2 separate regions of the Homo sapiens genome follow, and region 1 is linked to region 2. Evidence: fine-mapped expression QTL. A gene starts in region 2. The other region holds a variant in brackets. All regions are shown on one strand. Distances are between the middles of the regions. Region 1 overlaps ANKRD13B (ankyrin repeat domain 13B). Region 2 holds the start of SSH2 (slingshot protein phosphatase 2).

Evidence for each region. PIP is the estimated chance that this variant, and not a neighbour inherited with it, causes the effect.
Region 1: its variant is fine-mapped to the expression of SSH2 in whole blood (TOPMed, PIP above 0.99).

The regions. Positions count from the first base shown.
Region 1 is chr17:29,602,630-29,605,534 of GRCh38, reverse strand. The region is part of intron 1 of ANKRD13B (ankyrin repeat domain 13B); the gene reads right to left. Among named protein-coding and RNA genes, the nearest start is that of ANKRD13B, 11 kb to the right of the region's middle. The variant C/G (reference allele first, on the strand shown) is at 1,635.
Region 2 is chr17:29,929,042-29,931,946 of GRCh38, reverse strand. It overlaps SSH2 (slingshot protein phosphatase 2), which reads left to right and starts at 1,719. Exons shown (of 16, transcript NM_001282129.2): 1 at 1,719-2,009. The coding sequence starts at 1,947. It also overlaps a transcript of EFCAB5 not described here. RefSeq lists silencers at 537-706, 1,440-1,529, 1,680-1,959, 2,470-2,519.

The sequences.
Region 1 (2,905 bases), 330 kb after region 2:
CATCACACCTCTGCACTCCAGGCTGGGCAACAGAGTGAGACGCTGTCTCAAATATATATATACATATGCGTGTGTGTGTATATATATATGTGTGTGTGTATGTGTGTGTGTGTGTGTGTTTGTGTGTGTATATATATATATTTCTCTATATAGAAAATATATGTAAAGAGAAATAGCTGTTTTTAGAAGTCCAGAACTGTGATCCCTGAAGTAAGGAAAATGAACAAGGTGAGCTCTGTAACATCCCTGGATTTCTGCCTGGAGGAACATTCCAGACTGTAATTCAAGGAGGGGAAGCCCGAGCAGAGCATGGTGCTCTTCCTGAGTTGAGAAGATGGAGACAGGATTCAGGGAAGCCAAGGTATTAAAGGTTGCAGCAGAGCACAGTTCTGGAAAAGAGTAAACTACTCAAAAAACTCCAGAAATCTGCATAGGGGTCTCTTCAAGTCTTCCTGAATACTAAACTTCACATGTGTATAGTGAAACTCAGTAAGACCACACAAAAAGGAGCAATAAAATGGTAAATTCTCAGAGCTCACCAAAAGCAAGGAGATAATCAAGCTCCAGCCTCCTAGAGTGGAGATGCATATTTAATCAGACCTCAGAAGGGTTATGCCTTAGCAGTAGAGCTAAACTATCCCTAGAGAAAAGGCTCACCTAGACCCACCCTAACAGATTAAAAATTAGCCTCAGGCCGGGTGCAGTGGCTCATGCCTGTAATCCCAGCACTTTGGGAGGCGGAGGCGGGCAGATCACCTGAGGTCAGGAGTTCAAGACCAGCCTGGCCAAAATGGCGAAACCACATCTCTACTAAAAATACAAAAAATTAGCCGGGCTTGGTGATGGGTGCCTGTAATCCCAGCTACTCAGGAGGCTGAGGCACAAGAATCACTTGAACCCAGGAGGCGGAGGTTGCAGTGAGCCAAGACTGCACCACTACACTCTGGCCTGGGTGACAGAGCAAGACTCCATCTCAAAAAAAAAAAAGAAAAGAAAAGAAAAAGAAAAAGAAAAATTAGCATCAAAGGCCAGGCACGGTGGCTCACACCTCTAATCCCAGCACTTTGGGAGGCTGAGGCAGGCAGATCACTTGAGCCTAGGAGTTCAAGACCAGCCTGGGCAACATACCAAAACCCCATGTCTACAAAAAATACAAAAAATTAGCCAGGTATGGTAGCATGTGCCTGTAGCCTCAGCTACTCAGTGACTGAGGCAGGAGGATCCCTTAAGCCCAGGAGGTTGAGGCTGCAATGAGCTGAGATTGCCCCACTGCACTCAAGCCTGGGTGACAGAGCAAGACTCTGTCTCAAAAAAAAAAGCCTCAAAAAGGTCAAACTGATTTGCAAGTAATTTACCTAGTCTGCCTGAACAAAGCCCAACACTCTTTAAAGAACAATAACAAATCCAGATGCTTAACATCATATTTACAATGTCCAAAATTCAGTTAAAAATTACTAGATATGCCAAAAAGTAGGAAAATAAAACTTATAGGCAGGGTGCGGTGGCTCACGTGAGCCTGTAATCCCAGCATTTTGGGAGGCTGAGGCGGGTGGATCACGAGGTCAGGAGATCGAGCTTGCAGTGAGCCGAGATGGCGCCCCTGCACTCCAGCCTGGGCAACAGAGAGAGAGACT[C/G]CATCTCAAAAAAAAAAAAAAAAGAAAGAAAATATAACCTATAATCAGGAGAAAAATAATTTCATAGAAACAAAACTCAGAAATGATAAAGATGATAGATGGCTCAATATACTCAAGAGTTTAAAGAAAAACATGAAAAAGATGTTCATGAGGAGAGGAATGAGAGGTATAAAAAAGAACCCAGTGGACCATCTAAAGATAGTAAGTACAGTAACTGAAATGAAAAATTCACTGAATGGAAATAACAGCAGATTAGACACTGCACAATTTAAAAATCAGTGAATTTGAAGACAGCAATAGAACTTTCCAAACTGAAGCACAGAGGAGAAAAACAGTACTGAAAAATAAAGTTGGCTGGGCTTCTATAGTCCCAGCACTTTTGGAGGCCAAGGCGGGAGGTTGGCTTGAGTTCAGGAGTTTAAGACCAGCCCAGGCAATACAGCAAGACTCTGTCTCTACAAACAAAACAAAACAAAACAAAACAACTTTTACATTAGCTGGGCATGGTGGCAAGCAGCTGTAGTCCCAGCTCCTCTGAAGCTGAGGCAGGAGGATCCCTTGAGCCCAGGAGTTCGAGGCTGCAGTGAGCTATGATCACGCCACTGCACTCCAGCCTGGGCAACAGAGCAAGACCCTGTCTCTATGGAGCCTCATAATCTGTAAGACATTATCAAGCATTGTAACATATATCTATTGGAATCCCAAAGGACAGAATAAAGAAGTAGGACAAATAAGACAAATTTAGAGAAATAGGCCGGGTGCGGTGGCTCACGCCTGTAATCCCAGTACTTTGGGAGGCCAAGGCGGGTGGATCACAACATCAGGAGTTTGAGACCAGCCTGGCCAATATGGTGAAACCCCATTTTTACTAAAAATACAAAAATTAGCCAGGCGTGGTGGTGGGCACCTGTAGTCCCAGCTACTTGGGGGCTGAGGCAGGAGAATCGCTTGAACCCGGGAAGGGGAGGTTGCAATGAGCCGAGATCGTGTCACTGCACTCCAGCTTGGGCGACAGAGGGAGACTCCATTTCAAAATAAGTAAATAAATAATAAAAGAAAGAAAGAACGTCCAAAATTTTTCCAAACTTGATAAAAACTACTATGGTGGGTTGAAGAATGGTGCCCCTCCTAAGACATGTCCACATCACATTCTGACCCTCACAGCCTATGAATGAGACCTTATTTCAAAAAAGGGTCTTTGCAGACATAATTAAGTTAAGGATCTCAAGATGAAATAATCCTGGATCACCCAGGGGGCCCTAAATCCAATG
Region 2 (2,905 bases):
AAGGTTAATGGACTTAAGCCTTTCATCTTCCAAAAGAATTTCTGAAGAGTATGTTACCATGAAAAAGTAGAACATCATTGTTGCCCTCCCTGAGTCAGAGAATCAACATACAAGTACTAAGACCTACAGATTTGAATATTACTTTTTCTAGAATGATACTTTGGTTCATAAAGCACATATATTTCATTTATTTGAGTTCATTCAGCTTCTAGCTATGTGTATTTTTTGGCTATGTATCTAGTTTCCTCTTTGGTCTCCCATGCATTGGTTCAAAGTTCTTACTTCTGAAACTTGCCTTCTCTTTTCCTGTTTACTACGGAGCTCTGGGGAAAACACAGTCAGATTGTTTAATCTGTGAACCATACATCTTTGTTTAATTTTGTCTCACAGGCACTCCTGATCACCACCAGGGGGCAAAAGCCTACCAGCTGGCTTCTCTGCACTACACTCTACATAGGACTGTACAGTACAGGGACCCTCAGTGTCTGATTCTTGATGGAACCTCCCTGCTAATTATTTCAACCACAGGGCCCCAGGGAGAGAACAAAGGCTCAGCACAGAGGACTCTTGTGGCGTTTAACCGTACAGCAGCCAGAAAGAGCTCATGACAGCCCTGTCAGTTTAAAAGAAGCAATGAGATCCAAGAGTGTTTGAGTGACAAACAGGAGGGGGTGGGTTTTAATAACTGCAAACTCCCAAGTGTGTGTGTTTTCTACAGCTTTGATATGTACGGTGGTATTTACCAGCTCATCCACTCAAGCTGAGAAATAGCCTTGTCAACTCTCTTTCTTTGTGTAAATAATCAGTGATATTTGCATTGTGCAATTTTTTTCCTTTTTAATCTTGATTTTCCATTACATTCTTTGCTTATGTTCTGCAGACAATTTACCCCTGAGAAAACCATTCCCTTAAAATATCTTTTAATCTACATTTTTACATAGGTCTATGAAAGAATGACATTTAGAGACGAAGGAGAAGAAAGCTTAACGAGCAAATCCTGTTTAATTAAAAGACTGTCTTCACAGCAGGAGGCAAGTGAGAGGTCAATAGCAGGCTGGACCCTCACAACCGGCTTCCTCGGACTCCCAGGCGCGCTCAGCTTCTCTTCTCCTCAGGAATAATGAATAAGTCTTTAGACAGGCAATAGAGGAAGCATGAGGGTACCACAAACCTTTCCAGGGTATCAAACGGAAAATGGTTTTCTTTCCAGAAGTCTCATCATAAAACATAGACGGAAGGGGGGGAAAAGTTAAGAAAAAGCCCCCGAGAGCCGGGGTGAAGGGAGTAAACTGGTCTAGCCCAGTTCTGTCTGCGCCCAGTGAGAGGGTTTGAAACTCCGCGGAGCCCTTTCCCAATAGAAAACGTGTTTGCTTCAGGATTTTCATCTCAGCTGCTTTTTTTTAAGGTTGGTTAAGCTGTGCGCCGCCCCACCTCATAAAATGGTTGTCTCTCAGGAGTGAAGACTCCAGCGGCCCCCCGCCCTGGGACCCCTCACCGGGCTGGCTCCCTTCGGCCCCTTCCCCCACCCCACTCCACAGCACCCAGTGCTGGCAAACCGCGCGATTCCAGCACGAAGGAGGAAACCCAGGAGGGTGCGGCGGCCCGAGGCGCACGCACTCGGCCAGCTTCCGGCAACTCAAGGGTTACGACCAGGCGGCGGCGCGCGCCGAGGGGAGAGGCGGTAGCTGACAGGTGGCGCCTGCGCACTGGGAGCGCTCATTGTGCCCCGCAGCTGCGGAACCGCCCGCCCGCCGCCCGTTCGGAGCGTCAGTCGGCGACAGTCTGGTGGTGGGTGCGGAGTCTGCGGCCGTTCCCGCGGCCTCCTCCTCCTCCCCGTTCCCTTCACCCCCACCCCGCACCCCTTTCCCCATCCCGGCTCCGTCACCCTCCCGTCCCCCACACTCAGGACAAGAATGCCCTGCCCGGAACAACCCAGCAGCGCCTAGATGGCTTTGGTCACGGTCCAGCGGTCACCTACCCCCAGCACCACCTCCAGCCCCTGCGCCTCGGTGAGTCCTTCCTGGCGGCCGCTCCGCTTGCTTCTGTCACTGCGGCTCCGCTTTGCCTCAGCGGGTCCCGCCGAACGCCACTGCGCACGCGCCGCGCCGCTTCCCAGGCCTTGGCACTCGGCTGCCGCGAACCCCCCCACACCCCCATGTTAAAGACTAGCAGCAGGAACTACAAGACGTTGATTTTTGCCCCCATCACCCTGAGCACCTAGCTCCTCACAATCCTCGCCCTGAAATCCCCTGTGGCATGCCTCCCTATGGCTTGAGCACTTCCTTTTGGTAATGAGTCATTCTTGCTTTTCACCCTCCCCCTTCTTTTACCCTCTGTTGCTCTGCTGCAGGGAGGGGACCGTGAGCCTCCTGCGTTGCCCCTTACCCACACCCACATCTCTTACCCACACCATTTCATAGACCTGTTCAGTATTTGCACACTGCACACCCTTCTTCGTACTCGCCAGGGTGTGTGCCTTCCCCTAGTCACTTGCTGGCTTTCTTTTGCTCTGTACTGTTCAGGCTTTGAACTGCCCAACCGTAGTTATTCCTTGGTTTCTCCCGCCTGCCCCCCACCCCAGAGGGTAGCAATGATCTCTGTTTCCTGGACCTCTTACCTTTCCTTTATGAGGTCCCGAAGCATCTGGTGCTGCTTAGTGATCAGTGTCAAATTATTTCCGTCTTACAGATATTTATGCCTTACACTCATTGCTCGTGATCATTCTTGTTCTAAGGTCGTGTTTGTATGGCTCGTTACCTCAGATGCCTATGCCAATAAAGCATGCTCTCAGAAGGAAAATACCCAGTAACCAGCCTTTCCCCGCTGGGCCCGTCTTTGCCTTCTCTCCTCGCCCCACCCCCATTCGTTTACACTCCATTCTCTTAGGCTCCATTTTTGAAAATAT